2 separate regions of the Homo sapiens genome follow, and region 2 is linked to region 1. The links come from fine-mapping of genetic effects on gene expression. Tissue or cell type: cerebellum. Region 1 holds a variant in brackets; the other region holds the start of a gene. All regions are shown on one strand. Distances are between the middles of the regions.

The links.
Region 2: GJB6 starts here. The variant in region 1 is fine-mapped to the expression of GJB6 in cerebellum (GTEx, PIP 0.97).

What each region holds. Positions count from the first base shown.
Region 1 is chr13:20,207,183-20,215,182 of GRCh38, forward strand. No RefSeq gene overlaps it. Among named protein-coding and RNA genes, the nearest start is that of GJB2, 18 kb to the left of the region's middle. The variant C/T (reference allele first, on the strand shown) is at 3,928.
Region 2 is chr13:20,228,416-20,236,415 of GRCh38, forward strand. It overlaps GJB6 (gap junction protein beta 6), which reads right to left and starts at 3,904. Exons shown (of 5, transcript NM_001110219.3): 1 at 3,779-3,904; 2 at 2,967-3,090; 3 at 2,283-2,392; 4 at 1,165-1,334.

The DNA of each region.
Region 1 (8,000 bases):
TATCACAAGGACAAAAAAGCCAAACACCGCATGTTCTCACTCATAGATGGGAATTGAACAATGAGAACACATGGACATAGGAAGGGGAACATCACACTCTGAGGACTGTTGTGGGGTGCGGGGAGGGGGGAGGAATAGCATTAGGAGATATACCTAATGCTAAATGACGAGTTAATGGGTGCAGCACACCAGCATGGCACATGTATACATATGTAACAAACCTGCACATTGTGCACATGTACCCTAAAACTTAAAGTATAATAATAATAAAAAAAAGAAAAAAGAAAAAAAAAGATTAAATTTCCTAGAAAATCTTTGTTCCAAAAAAAAAAGAAAGAACGACTTATCGTTCTTTCGATCTCTTACGGCTGGATATCTAAGGGCCCATCCAATGCCTAGAGATGGAGGCTGGAGAAGTCCTCGCTGGGGAGATGCGCAGGGCAGGCAGGGAGGGCAGCAGCTGGTGACACGGTGGCCCTCCCAGGGCGGGGACTGCCTGACCCCTCCAACCCCATCCCCGCGTGGAACAGGTTGCTGAAAAACAAACTCATGTTTTCAGTCCATAGGGCTGAAAAGGGTCTGTCTATAGTGATTACACACCAATGACTGAATGCAGCCCACATTTCACAGCCGCAGGTCCAGAGTGGAACTGTTTCAGAGAGGCACAGCTATTTCTACGGGCCGCTCGAAATGGCATGTGTCTGGGAGCGTTTCTGAAGACCAGCATGAGATGAGGATGACCTGAGGGACTTATCAAAATGCAGATTCTGGAGCCCATCCCGGGCTGACTGAATTCGACCTTCTGAAGGTGGGTGCTGGGATGGACATTTTAAGCAACCCCACCGGGTAATTCTTAGGCACACTGAAATGGGACCATTTTGCTGCTCCTTGCAACCTGGACTAAGCCTGGTTGATTAAAAATCAACCCCTGGCTGGGCGTGGTGGCTCACGTCTGTAATCCCAGCACTTTGGGAATCCAAGGCAGGTGGATCACCAGAGGTCAGGAGTTCGAGACCAGCCTGGCCAAGATGGTGAAACCCCGTCTCTACTAAAAATATAAAAAATTAGCCGGGCGTGGTGTTGGGCGCCTGTAATCCCAGGTACTCTGGAGGCTGAGGCAGGAGAATCGCTTGAACCCAGGAGGTGGAAGTTGTGATGAGCCAAGGTTGTGCCATTGCACTCCAGCCTGGGGAGCAAGAGTGAAACTCTGTCTCAAAAAATAAAATAAAATAAAATAAATAAATAAAAATAAAAATAAAATAAATAAAAATAAAAAATAAATCAACTCCTAAGTTTATTAAAAATACAGATTTCTGGCCAGGCGTGGTGGCTCACGCCTGTAATCCCAGCACTTTGGGAGGCCGAGGCGGGTGGATAACGAGGTCAGGAGATCGAGACCATCCTGGCTAATGCGGTGAAATCCCGTCTCTGCTAAAAATACAAAAAATTAGCCGGGTGTGGTGGCGGGCGCCTGTAGTCCCAGCTGCTTGGGAGGCTGAGGCAGGAGAATGGTGTGAACCCGGGAGGCAGAGCTTGCAGTGAGCCAAGATTGTCCCACTGCACTCCAGCCTGGGTGACAGAGCGAGACTCCGTCTAAAAAAAATAAAAAATAAAAAATAAAAATACAGATTTCTGGGTTGTGGGACCAGAAGTTCTGATCCAGTAAATTTGGGAAGCCATGGGCTATAGTCTGTACTTATTTGGTTCTTATGATCTTATAGCTGGACTTAGCACTTGTTATGGATTGAATGTTTGTATCCTCCCTGAAATTCCTGTGTTGAAATCCTAACCCCCAATTAGGAGGTGGGGTCTTGCGGAGGTGAAGGGGAATAGAATTAGTGCCCTTATGAAAGAGATCCCAGAGAGCCCCCTTGCCCCTTCAGCCACAGGAGGGCACGGTGAGAAGGCCGTGTCTGTGAACTAGGAGGCAGTCCTCACCAGACATCAAATCTGGTGATGTCTGATTTTGGACTTTCAGCCTCCAGAATGGTGAAAAATAAATTTCTGTGGTTTATAAGCCACCCAGTCTATGGTATTCTCTTATAGCGGCCTGAACTGATTAGGACAGCCCTATTTTGACGAACATACTTCTGGGGAAACTTAAGATCTTGAGCCCATTGACATTAGCTCCAACTGAAGGGTGTCTGTCTTCAGCACGTAGAAATGTGGTGTATGGGGAGGAAACACACAGTGTTAAATTTCAAATCCCACACCTCTTTTAAGGAGGTTAGAGCCTGTGTCACACTTTCAGCCAAGAGTCTCTCTCTGATATTAATTCTGAACTTAAATAGTAATTTTTGACAAGTGCCAGGCATACCCCTTCATGAGCAGAATCTAGAAGACCACTCACAGGTCTCTCTTTGAGCTGAAGTTCAGCCAGAAACAGTCAATTCCCCTCTGGATTTATGCCTTCTCTTCAGTGAACATTGAAGAGTTGAATAGATACTGGCTACCATTGGGAAGAGACTGTTTCATGTTGTATTAATATATTTCAAATAGAGAACTAATGTCTAAGTTAATAAGAGATGAATAAAAGTAAATGGTATACAAAGAAATAATTATTTACAGCTTACTGCTAACCACAATTTAAAATACCACATTAATCCTGAATCTATAAACTTAAAAGTTTGGTTAGGAAAAAGCTAGAAATCAATTATACCTAGAAATAATTTAGGTTGACAAGCACCTTCACATTTCTGAGGCTGATTAATGATAGAGTCTCTGCTGTCTGTAATATTATCTTTAAAGAGATTCTTGGCTGTAGTTTCACAGTTAATTTAATTCCTCATCTTGGTGAGATTTTCCCACTGCACTCTGCCATCTGAATGGTTTCAAGGCCTTCTGTTACTTCACCAACTTTTTCCCTATTAAAATGGCCTGAAAAGGCCTTGGCCAGCCTGCTCTGTTCTTCCATCAGCATTCACCTAAGTACTCCTCATGGGTGGGAGAAACCATGGCAACAGCAGTTCTGGCGCATAGGGAGGTTATTCACAGGGCTTCAGAAAACTACTGGCAGGTCCCTCACAGTAAGGAAGCCAATGAGCCTTCTTCCCCTCCCAACAGCCATGCCACAAAGTCAGGAGAAAAAGGATTGGTATTTCAGATGCTGATTAGTTCAACATCCACTTATTGGTACTCAGTATGTGAAGAATCATGTTGAGGCAGGAGCAAAGGGAATGAGATCAGCTCTTCTCTGTTCAGGAGCCCCTGCCCTAGTAGAGAAGCAGAGAGAACTTAGCAAAGCAGAAACACTCTCAGAGCACCCTGGGGAGGAGGGTCGGGAGAGATGATGCTGCCTGGAGGGAGGCAGGAGAATCCTCAAGAAGAAGACTTTGAGCTGGTCTAGAAGGACAGGGTGGAGGAAGGGACAGGCAGGCAGGCCATTCCGGGTAGAAGAGAGCTTGTGTAATGCCCAGAGGTGGGGATAAGAAAATGACCCTTGAGAAACAGCAAGTGCCCTCGGGAAGGTTGAAAATGGAGAGCATGGAGACTCCCCATCACTCTCTCACAGACTGAGAGATTAACTGGAAAACTAAGGCTGGACTGTGGTTGGAGGGGTTGGGAAGACAGTGGCCCAAAACACAGATGGGTGTCAACAAAAACAAAACAAACTCAAAGACAAGCCAGGAAAAGCCTTCTGTCTCCAGTCTAAGGGTCAGTAAAGGGGAAGCCTAGCAAGACATAAAAATTTTAGGCCGGGCGCGCTGGCTCACGCCTGTAATCCCAGCACTTTGGGAGGCCGAGGCGGGCGGATCACTAGGTCAGGAGATCAAGACCATCCTGGCCAACACGGTGAAACCCCGTCTCTACTAAAATACAAAAAATTAGCCAGGCGTGGTGGCACACGCCTGTAGTCCCAGCTTTTCAGGAGGCTGAGACAGGAGAATTGCTGGAACCCAGGAGGCAGAGGTTGCAGTGAGCCAAGAT[C/T]GTGCCATTGCACTCCAGCCTGGCGACAGAGCAAGACTGAATCTCAAAAAAAAAAAAATTTTTTTTAGACAATAACCAGTCTACTTCAGCCAAATATCGCAGAAAAAACTGTGTCCCTGCTACCACTCACCCATGCCAGCAAAGGCCAAACAGGTTGCTCAGGCTTCTGCCCTAGCAAGGCTGTAATAGGGTGCCCCAACATCCCCACTGGGACAGTGTCAGAAAAAGCAAAGTAGGGAGCTTGGACTTTTGTCCCAGCAGGTAACAAGACCCTCCTGCCACATGATGTTAGTGGCGGCCATATTGGGAATCTGGACCCCATCCCACCTAGCAGTAATGAGGCACCACTGCCCCTCCCCCAGGTGGTGTCAAAGAAGGTCTAGTGGAGAGTCAGGACTTTCATCAGTGCCTACTAGAAATGAGGCCACCCCCACCATGGTGTTGGTGGAGATTACACTGAGAGCTGGAACTGCCAACCCTGCCCCACAAGGAGCCTCTCCTCACCTTGGGTGTCAATGGAGGTCAAATGGAAAAGCTGGACTTCTACCTCCACCTGACAGCATGAGGTGGCACCCATTCCCTTCTGGAGGGGTGACAGAGAAAGCCAGTTAAAACAGAGATTTTAAAGGAGATCCAGTCTTATGACATAACACCCAGAGTGTCCAGGTTTTTGTTGTTGTTGTTGTTTTTTGAGGCAGAGTTTTGCTGTTGTTGCCCAGGCTGGAGTACAGTGGTACAATCTCGACTCACTGCAACCTCCGCCTCCTGGGTTCAAGCAATTCTCCTGCCTCAGCCTATCGAGTCGCTGGGATTACAGGTGCCCATGACCACAACCCACTGATGTTTTGTATTTTTTTTAGTAGAGATGGGGTTTCACCATGTTGGCCAGGCTGGTCTCAAACTCCTGACTTCAGGCAATCCACCCGCCTCAGCCTCCCAAAGTTCTGGGATTACAGGTGTGAGCCACCACGCCTGGCCAGACTGTCCAGGTTTCAACTGAAAATCCCTTGTCATACCAAGAACCAAGACCTCAACCTGAATAATCAAAACAATACGAAGATGGCAGGGATGTTAGAATAATCTGACAAAGGTCTAAGGCAGTCATGATAAAAAGGCTTCAATGAACAAATACAAACATGTTTGAAACAGAAATAGAAAATGTCAGTGAAGAAATAGATGATATAGAGAAGAACCAAATGGAAATTCTAGAACCGTAAAATACAATAACTAAAATAAAAATACAAAAACTAAAAATAGAAAGAATTAGTGGACCAAAACAATAGAAACTACTCAATCTAAACAACAGAGAGAATAGAGACTGAAAAAAAAATGAGCAGAATTCTGGGTACCTGAGTTATTACAACAAAAGCCTTGACATTTGAGCCATCAGAATCCCAGAAGTTGAAGAGAAAGAGGGCAGGACTAAAAAAGGACTTGAAAAAATAATGGCTGAAAACTTTCCAAATTTTGTAAGAGATCTATATCCACAAATTCAAGAAGTGAACCCTAAACAAAATAAACCCAAAGAAATCATGCCGAGACACATCATAATTAAATTTCGGAAAACTGAAGACAAAGGAACAATCTTAAAAGTAGCCAGAGAAAAACATTGCCTATAGGGAAAAACCATTCAAATTTCTCCTTAGAAATTATGGAGGCCAGGCTGGGTGTGGTGGCTGATGCCTGTAATCCCAGCACTTTGGGAGGCTGAGGCAGGCAGATTGCTTGAGGCCAGGAGTTTGAGATCAGCCTGGCCAACAGGCGAAATCAGGGCTCTACTAAAAATACAAAAAAAAAAGAAAAAAAAAATTAGCCAGTGGTGGTGGTGTGCACCTGTAATCCAAGCTACTCAGAAGGCTGAGGTGGGAAGATTGCTTGAGCCCAGGAGGTGGAGGTTGCAGTGAGCTGAGATTGCACCACCGCAAGAAATCATGGAGGCTGTGGCACAATATTTTTCAGGTCAACTCAAAATTCTATTCCAGGCATAAATATCCTTCATGAGTGAGGAGGTAATAAAAACTTTCTCAAATAAAAGAAAGCAAAAAATTTATCACCAAGAGACCAATCATAAAAGAATAGCCAACAGAAGTTCTATATTCAGAAAGGAAATGATAAAAGAAGGAATCTTAGAACATCAGAAAGAACATGTTAAGCAACAGTATGGGTAAATACAATAGATTTTCCTTCTTCTCTTGTGTTTTCTAAATTATATTTAGCAGTTGAAAGAAAAATTACAACACTGACTGATGTGGTTCTAAATATATGTAGAGGAAATATCTAAGACAATTATAAATGGAGGAGGGTTAAGGGACATAATGGGAAATAAGGTTTCTCTATGTCACTCAAATTGGTAAAGTGACAACATTAGGAGGCTGTGATAAGTTGTGTAAATACAATATAATACCTAGGGCAACCACTAAAAATGTTACAGAAAGATACACACAAAAATAATAGATACATAAAAATAGAACTCTAAAAAACATTTAAGCAAACTACAGAAAGGGACGAGGGAAAGAAAACGGAAATAAAAAACAGACATAACAAACAGAAAACAAAAAATAAATGGCAGATCTAAGCCTTAAAACATCAACAATTACATTAAATATAATTGGTCTAAATACATCCATTAAAAGACAGATTAACAAAATGGACTAAAACACATTACTGAACTATGTGCTGTCTATAAGAAACTCAATTCAAATTTAAGGATATAGGCAGGTCAAAAGCAAAAGGATGGAAAAAGGTATACCATGTAAACTTCAGAGCAAAGAAAATTATGAGCCAGAGACAGACGTCATATAATGCTAAAAGTGTTAATTCACTAAGAAGGCATAGCAATCCTGAATGTGTATGCACCAAATAACAAAGCTGAAAAATAAGTGATGCAAAAACTGATGAAACTGAAAGGAGAAATAGACATATCCACAAATATAGATGAATACTTGAACACCCTCTCTCAATAACTGATAGAAAAACTAGGCAGAAAACCAGCAAGGACATAAAAGAACTCAATGACACCATCAACCAAAAGGCTCTAGTTGGGATTTGCCAAGCACTTCACCCAACAACACTGAAATATACATTCTTTTCTAGTCCAACAAATGTGTACCAAGATAGGCCACATTTTATTTAAAAATATCACACCTGTTTTAATCAGGTGTGATAAGAAATGCAGGCATGGAAATGACTGTCATGAAGGAAGAGGTTTTTACTTAGAGTGCTCTAGAAATAGGGGGCAAACACACCTTGCAGAGCCACATGGAAAAGTACCAGAGTCAGTCAGGAGGCAGAGGGTGTCAGGGGGAAATGTGGGCAAGAGCCATTAATGTGGTTACTCTGGGAAAGGCAAGGCAGAGTAAACAGGCTTAGCAGACTTGGGATTGGCTAGTGTGAAACTTTCAGGGGGCTCTGAGGCATAGGGGCTATCCCCATTGGTCTGATATCTGGCCCTGGACTGATTGGGGCAGGTAGACAGTGGCCTAGAATGTGAAATCTCTGTGAGCGACTGATGAAGGGGGTGGTTAGGGTCTAGGTTTGGAATGGTTGGTTTGCATATGATTGGTGCACTCACAGGGAGTTATTTGCCATCTCTAGGAATTAGCTGGCTCTGGGAGGGACAGTCTCCCCAAGGTTAGTAAGGCCACGAACATTATTCTGATATCAAAACAGAAGAGTAAAAAGACATGCTTAATACATAAGCCATAAAACAAACCTCAATACATTTCAAAGAATAAAATAATAGTGTGTTCTCTGGCCATAATAAAATCAAACTAGAAATAAATAGCAGAAAGATAATAGGAAAATTTCCAAACACTTGGAAACTAAAACACACTTCTAAATACATTGTACCAAATGAAATTTAAAAATAAAACATATCAAAATTTGTTAGCATAGCTAAAGGAGTGCTGATAGGGAAATGTATATCACTGAATGCATACTGCAGGAAAGAAGAAAAGACTGAGATCTAAGTTCCTACTCGAAGAACCTAGAAAAAGAAGAGCAAAATAAACCAAAAGCAAAAAGGAAGAAAATAATAAAGATAAGAGCAGAAATCAATTATCCTGAAAACAGAA
Region 2 (8,000 bases), 21 kb after region 1:
AGTAAATGTAATCATAGTGAAGAACTCGATGCTGTTTTTTCTTGTTTGTTTGTTTTTGTTTTTTGTTTTTGTTTTTTGTTTTTTTTGAGATGGAGTCTAGCTCTGTTGCCCAAGCTGGAGTACCGTGGCACGATCTCGGCTCACTGCAAGCTCCGCCTCCCGGGTTCACGCCGTTCTCCCGCCTCAGCCTCTCTGAGCAGCTGGGACTACAGGCGCCTGCCACCAAGCCCGGCTAATTTTTTGTATTTTTAGTAGAGACGGGGTTTCACCGTGTTAGCCAGGATGGTCTCGATCTCCTGACCTCATGATCCGCCCCCCTTGGCCTCCCAAAGTGCTGGGATTACAAGCATGAGCCACCGCGCCCGGCCCATGCTATATTCTTGATACTAAAGCTCCAGTCTGAAATATCTAGCTCTAAAAATAAGTAAACCATGGACTTTACTTTTGAGGATCCACACAGCATTGTGAAGATAGGTTGTTCTTTCCTTTTACAATTCAAATAATTTAGATCTATTGGCATTTGACTGCACTAATGAAATTTCTTGATTGTTTTAAAACTTCTTAGGAAATTAATCACAACTAGCTTATTTATCTATGCCATTATAATTTCACTAATGACAGAACCAAAACTAAAGCCCCCAAAGTTAGAGTGTAACCCCTCAGCATATTTTTCTAGATAGCTCTGTTCCCCTTTCAATGTCATTTAGCAAAAAAAAAAAAAAAAAAAAAAAAAAATTTTTTTTTTTTTTTTTAGACAGAGTCTTGCCCTGTTGCCCAGGGTGGAGTGCAATGGTGCAATCTCAGCTCACTGCAACATCTGCCTCCCCGGTTCTAGTGATTCTTGTGCTTCAGCCTCCTGAATAGCTGGGACTACAGGCATATGCCACCATACCTGGTTAATTTTTTTTTTTTTTTTTTTTTTTTTTTTTTTAGTAGTGACAGGGTTTTGCCACCTTGGTCAGGCTGGTCTTGAACTCCTGACCTCAGCCTCGGCCTCCCAAAGTGTTGGGATTACAGGCATGAGCCATCGCGCCTGGCCATCTAGGGAGTAGTTGATAGATCTGAGAACAGGAACATGTGCCTCCCAATTTCGAAGTTAGCTTTGGATAGTCGGGGAGTCTGCATAGATAAAAGGAAAACAATATCAAAGCAAAACAAGCAAACCTGAGTCCTGTTTCCAACGACTGCCAGTGTTTCAGACCCAAAGAATGAGGGCAAGATCCCTCTGCGAGGGTTTCAGACCTCCTTCTCCTACCCCACTGGAGTGCCTAGAAGCCAATGGTGCACAGTGATGATACGAATGTCAATCTTTGCTCGGTCAGTGAGGATGTCGCCTGTTGAGGGAAAAATAGTAGCTGTTGCCATATTCCTTTAACTCCCCCCCCCCCCGCCCCCCGCAATATGTCCCCTGAATAAACTTTGTGGGTAGTTTTTCTTCATTCCCAGAACTGTTATGAGGTAAGTTCAGAAATTGCCAGCTTCCTGATGCTCTATGCTTTGAACACACAAAATAATCAAAGGTGCTCTTTAGTAGGATCCTTTCCCTATCAAAATAACAGTAACACCCAATCTGAGGCCTCAAGCCCACTCCTTGAGCAAAACAAAAAGGGACAGGGGAGAGTTTGAGACACTGGCTACACCCTGATCCCCAAATCAGTGGTTTAAAAAAAATCTCAGACTCTTTCTTCAATCAGGAAGAATAGATTTCTTTTGTCTCTAGAAATCTCAGGTCATCCAAGGGACAACCTGATAGTTGATTTTTAAATTTAGTGACAAAAAACTTCAGCAACTGTCCTGATAGAGTAACAGCTAGTGATAACAATGGGTCAGGGATTCATATATTTCAAAATTAACTCAATAAAAATGAAACGTTTCTGTCTGTGGAGTCTAGATGTAAAAATGGAAAACTCATGCAATTACGTATGTTTCTTACATCATTTAAGAATTCAAAGAGTTAAAAATTAATTTCCATTAAGTTAAACTTTCCTTCTCTGGGTCTTGTTAGCAATATATGTTTGTTCATTCAAGCAAACCTGTGTCCTTTCCAAACATTTAAGCTCAACTAGATTTAAATGACCCTGGGAATAAAAATGGAGCAGGCCCTCTGGGGTTCCAGGTCTATGCTCATGCACTAAGCAACTAAAACAGAAATCATAACCTATGGCAGGTGGCCATTAGAAGGTTATGCCCTCACAGACCAAGAAGCTTGGGTCAGAAATCACTTTCCCACAATTTTATCCCATTTAACATTTAAACTAATATATGCAAACTGCTCACAGCACCTGGAATATTCAAATTGAATTAAAGATGCATGAAGAGGGCGTACAAGTTAGAATTTTTCTTTCGCCATACAGAAATTGTTTAGCCAGATCTTCTGTACTTCTTTTCCTTCCTAACACTCAGAATTCAGAAGAGAAGACATAAGAAAAAAAGCATAAAGTCATCATTACCTGTATCAGAATTTGTTTAAAAAACAACCAGTGGGGCAGGTGAACTGACCAGCGTCTTCCCAGCTTTAGTCACTGCAGTGGCAATGAGGCGCTCTCCACACCCCCAGTTATGTGACAGGCTAGAGCCCTGGTGTTCTCTCTTCAGAACCCCCCTCTCCTCCTTGGCAAGCTTCAAGCAACACCCCCAAAGACGCTGCTGGATCCAAACAACAGACAAAGCTCTCCACAGGAGCAGTTCTGAGCAGCACCCTGCAATTCTAAGGAGACTGCATGGGGGCAGGACATTTTCTTCTAGAACACTGGTTAGATTCTGCTAGAACTGGGGCAAGAAAATAGCTGTATGGCATAAAGTCTACTTGAGGGAAAAGAACAACCCGGCACGGTTACGTTCAATCAGACACTAAACAGAGTGCACGCCCACCCAGGGGACACTGAGGTCGCTGGGCCAGTGTCCCCGCCTGGTTGCAGGTCCCTAACCCCTCCGGGAGTGCAGAGCTGCGGGCAGGCCACACTCACCCTGACCCTTCCTGCTCCCCAGGAAGGGAGGTCAGCCCCGTTTGCAAAACACAGGATGCCCGTGACACCGGAGACAGGTCTTCTTCACCGACAGGAAGTGCCTTCTGGTGCCTGCACGTTTTAACTAAGATGTGTCGCCAATTACTTTTAATTACTGTCGTCCACGCTATTGTCATCAGCATTTCACAAGTTTCTCGGAAGCCCATCACGCAGCCCATACCCTGCGGTTCTCCGGGGACTTATGCATCGGCCCAAGTTGAGGGTTTGTCTGAACTGAAACCCGCATCCTAGACCTGGCTTTCTTCTCCCCAAATCCAAGGGGACACCCCGGTGACCCACAAAAGCTTAGAAAATCCAACACGCAGCAAATGAAACGGGGGAAAGGGGCACCGGCCCTCACTCTGGCCTCTTAGACACACGATATGAAACCTTCATAAAACCTGTTGTACAAGTCAAAGGGGACCACGCTGGGGTAAAAGTCAAACCAGTCCATCCTCGTTCCTCTGCGTACAGAGAGAGGGTCCAGCGCGGGCGGCGCCCACTGCCATCGGGCCGGGGCCGGGGCGCGTGGACAGGAGGGTGCGGATAGAGGCAGATCGGGGGCCCGGTCGCCCCACGTGCGGCCAGACACCCATCCCGGCCGCGCTCTGCCGGCTCTGATCCGGTGCCAGACAGGAGCGACAGGGGCGAGGTGGGGACCAGCCGCCGACCTCACCTGTTTTGTTTTCTTGGAGGAAATTCCTCCGCTGGGGGGCCGAGGTGGCACCGCCCGCTCGCCCCCCGCAAGACCCAGCCGGTCCGCGCCCGCTTACCTGCTCTGCGGCCGGCGGCCCTGGCGCGGGCTCTGCGCGGGGCGGCGCCCTTCGCTCCGGCTGGGCAGGCAGGTCGGGCTCGGGCGCCGCCGGCTGTCGGGCTCTCGTCGGGTTTCGGGTGAAGGCCCCGGCTCCCACCTGCTGCGCCTTTTAACCGCGCCCCACCCCGCCTCTGCCCTGACGCGGCTCGGGCGGGCTGCGGGAGGCGAGCGCTGTCACTCGACGAGCCCCCCGCCCCCACCTACCCGGGGCGCACTAGCCGCTGGGCGCGGACCGTCCCCCTGAGGAGCAAGGAGTGCAGGACCGGGGCTGTCCCTCCGGGGCCGGATGCGCAGAGCGGGGACCTTTTTCCCGTGGCGGGGGCGCAGGGTGGGGGACCCCTAAGAAGTGCACAGTGCGCGGGGCCCTCTTTCCGGCCCTTGGAGGGAACGGGGTACCGGGGATGCAGGGGGTAGGGCTCTCCCTCGGGAGCGCAGAGGGCGGGCCCAGCCCCCTCTGCACGGGTGCAGGTGTGGGGCGCCTGCTCAGGCCCTCGAGGGAACTCTTCCTCCCTAGTGCACCCGTGGGGAGCAGTGTGAGGGGCAGGCTGTGTTTTTGCCAGGACACATCCTCAGTCTTTCTGGGTGATCCAGCCTTCTCATAGCCCGCGGGGTGCACAGACCTCTCCTATAGGAGCCTGGAGGTTCTTTATTAATTAATGACCACTTAGAGGAGGTACAGGGGTTGTTTTTATTAATTACCTCCATCCTTTGAAGACTCCTCCGGGGAAGCGGAGCAGGCCTTCCTCGGGACAGTGCACCAGGAGAGACCACATTGCCTCCCCGCTTTTCAGTCAAGACTAGAAAGCTCAGGGCCAGTACAGGGAGTGGTGCAAGGGCTGGTGGGGTGGAAACGTTGGAAGCTATTTAGGCACCTGGCTTTACAGGTTCAAACCTGTCACGCATCGGACAAAAGATGTGTGACTTGCTTATTCTACAAAACTGTTCGGTAATTAAACGTCCCCACCTAAACCATATGCCACTTGTTGGGTCATATTCTCCCACGAAACAATTAAGATGTCTGTTAAAGGTCATGGAATTTGAGCCAAGACTTCATAAAAATCCGCTTTCCAAAATATTTTATTTGAGGAGAACAAGGTTCTTAAAGAATTTGCCCAAGTCAAGTTTTAAAAACTTTGGGGAGGCCCCTGAAATGGCCTTGAACTTGGAGAGTGGAGAGACACAGAAATCTCTAGGCTTTTTAAATTTATTTATTTATTTATTTATTTATTTATTTATTTATTTATTTTGACTAAGTCTGGCTCTGTTGCCCAGGCTGGAGTGTGGTGGTGTGATCTCAGCTCATTGCAACCTCTGCCTCCCGGGTTCAAGTGATTCTCCTGCCTCAGCTTCCCGAGTCGCTGGGATTACAGGCCCGCACCACCATGCCTGGCTAGGTTTTGTATTTTTAGTAGAGCTGGGTTTCACCATGTTGGCCAGGCTGGTCTGGAGCTCCTGACCTCAGGTGATCCACCTGCCTCAGCCTCCCAAAGTGCTGGGATTACAGGCGTGAGCCACCGCGCCGAGCATCTCTAGGCTTTTTTGTTAGACATCCTCACACTGCCCAGATGTGCCCTATGCGGTAAATCTTGGGTGCTCTGTCCTGCCCCACACAATCTAACTGTGGACTTCCCAGTCTTCTCTCCATTCCTCTCCCAAACAGATGCTTCAGCCAGGCTCAGCTGTTTGCATAGTAAAATAATTTTTCTAAGCAGATTGTAAACTTCTTTGGGGATTATAAACAGTTTAAGCTTTTCTTCCTCTTCTTCTTCTTTTGCATTTCTACAATACTAAGTACTTTGCTCATAGTATGTGCTGCTCCATGAGTATTTGAATATTGCTTGGCAAAGCTGAACCAGCATAGCAGATAGTCCTGGAAATAGCTTTTGCTTTTTCTAAAGCATGCCCTGTTCTCAATCCTGCACCTGATTCCATGCAGTACTGTGTCTGAGCATTGACATCCTGGACCAGTGGAAATTGTTCTAGGACTGGTGCAGGATAGAACTTTCAAACCAAAGTTGTCACAGAGAATGTGTTGCATTTGCTCATGTGTGCAAAAATGAAACCATCTCATCACTGTGTAAAATATCTCTTTTTCTGTTCAGGTTATCTATATTAGTCTGCATGGCCTTAACATTGAACACTGTCCTTCAGTTTTTGCTACTCATCAGACAGTCTTGTTGCAGCAGAAATTAAATGTGGACTGTATAAAACTTAAGGACTTGATGGGATGCGCATTTGAAAACTGAAAATTAGTTGTCTTAGTCCATTTGTGTTGCTATAACAGAATACCATAGACTGGGTAACTGATAAAGAAAAGAAATTTATTTTTCAGAATTCTAGAGGCTGGGAAGTCTGATATCAAGATGCTCGCATCTGGCGAGGGTTTTCTTGCTGTGTCTTCCCATGGCAGAGGTGGAGGGGCAAAAGAATGAGAAGATAGGGAAAGAAAAGAGAGAGAGGTGGGGGTGGAGAGAGAGGAAGGGGTTCAAACTCATTGTTTTTTCAGGAACCCACTCTCAAGATAACTAACCCACTCTAGAGATCACAGCATTAATCCATTCATGAGGGCAAAGCCATCATACCTCCTCACCTCTTAAAAGTCCCTCCCATCTTTCAACACTGTTTCATTGGGGATTAAGTTTCCAACACATGGACTTTAGGGGACACATTCAAACCATAGCATTCTGTCTTAGCCCCCCAAATTCATGCCTTTCTCACATGTGAAATACATTCATTCCATCCCAATAGTCCCCAAAGGCTTAACTCTTCCAGCACCAACTGAAAAGTTCAAATCCAGAGTCCCATCTAAATCAGATAAAGCTAAGACTCCAAGGCAGGCATAGCTGGCCTGAGGCAGACTCCTTTCCAGCTGTGAACCTGTGAAATCAAAACAGGCTATCTACTCCCAAAAGACAATGGTGGGGCAGGCATAGGAGAGATATTTTCATTCCAAAAGGGAGAGAGAGGCAGGAAGAAAGGGGTAACTGGTTCCAGCTACATCTAGAACCCAACATGCATGTGTTAGGCTGTTTTTGCATTGCCACAAATAAATACCCGAGGCTGGGTAATTTATAAAGAAAAGACAGGCCGGTGTGGTGGCTCACGCCTGTAATCCCAGCACTTTGGGAGGCTGAGGCAGGAGGATTGCTTGAGCTCAGGAGTTTAAGACCATCCTGGGCAATATAGTGAGACCTCATCTCTACTAAAAAAAAAAAAAAAAAAAAAAATTAGCTGGGTGTGATGGTGTGTGCCTGTAGTCCCTGTTACTCAGGAGGCTGAGGCAGGAGGATCACTTGAGCCTGGGTGATGGAGGCTGCAGTGAGCTATGATCTTGCCACTGTGCTCCAGCCTGAGCAACACAGTGAGACCGGTCTCAAAAAAAGAAAAGAAAAGAAATTTAATTCACTCATGGTTCTGCAGACAGTGCAAGAAACATGGTGCTAGCATCTGCTTCTGGTGAGGGCCTCAGCAAGTTTCCAATCACGTTGGAAGGACAAGGGAGAGCAAATGTCTCACATGGTGAGAGTGCGAGCAAGAGAAAAAGCAGGGAGGTGCCCTATACTTTTAAATAACCAGATCGCAAGTGAACTCATTGGTCACCAAGGGGATGGCACTAAGCCATTCATTAGGGATCCACCCCCATGATTCAAACACCTCCCACTAGGCCTCGCCTCCAACATTGGAGATTACACTTCAACATGAGATTTGGAGGGGACAAATACCCAAACTATATCAATGGAAAAAAAACATTAAGTCTTAAAACTGGTGAATAATCTCCTCTGACTCCCTGTCCTGCGATCTGGGCACACTGGAGTGGGGCTTGGACCCCTCAAGACCTCAGGCAGCCCCTCCCCTATGGCTTTGCTGGGATCAGTCCACCCAGCAGCTCTCAGAGGTTGGAGTCTCATGCCTGCAGCTTTCCCAGGTTGGAGTTGCACACTAGTGACCCTACAGTTCTGGGGGATCGGGGCTCCCCGGCTCCCATGCCTCACCTCTGTGACAAGTGTCTGCCTGAGCCCCTAGCCGGTCCAAGTCATCCTTTGAAATCTAGGTGGAGGCCACCATGGCCCCACAGCTTGTACATTCTGCATGTCTGCAGAGTCAGCACTACATGCATGCCACCAAGGTTTGCAGCTTATACCTTCCAGAATGGTGGGTCAAACTGTGGGGTGCTGTGCCAG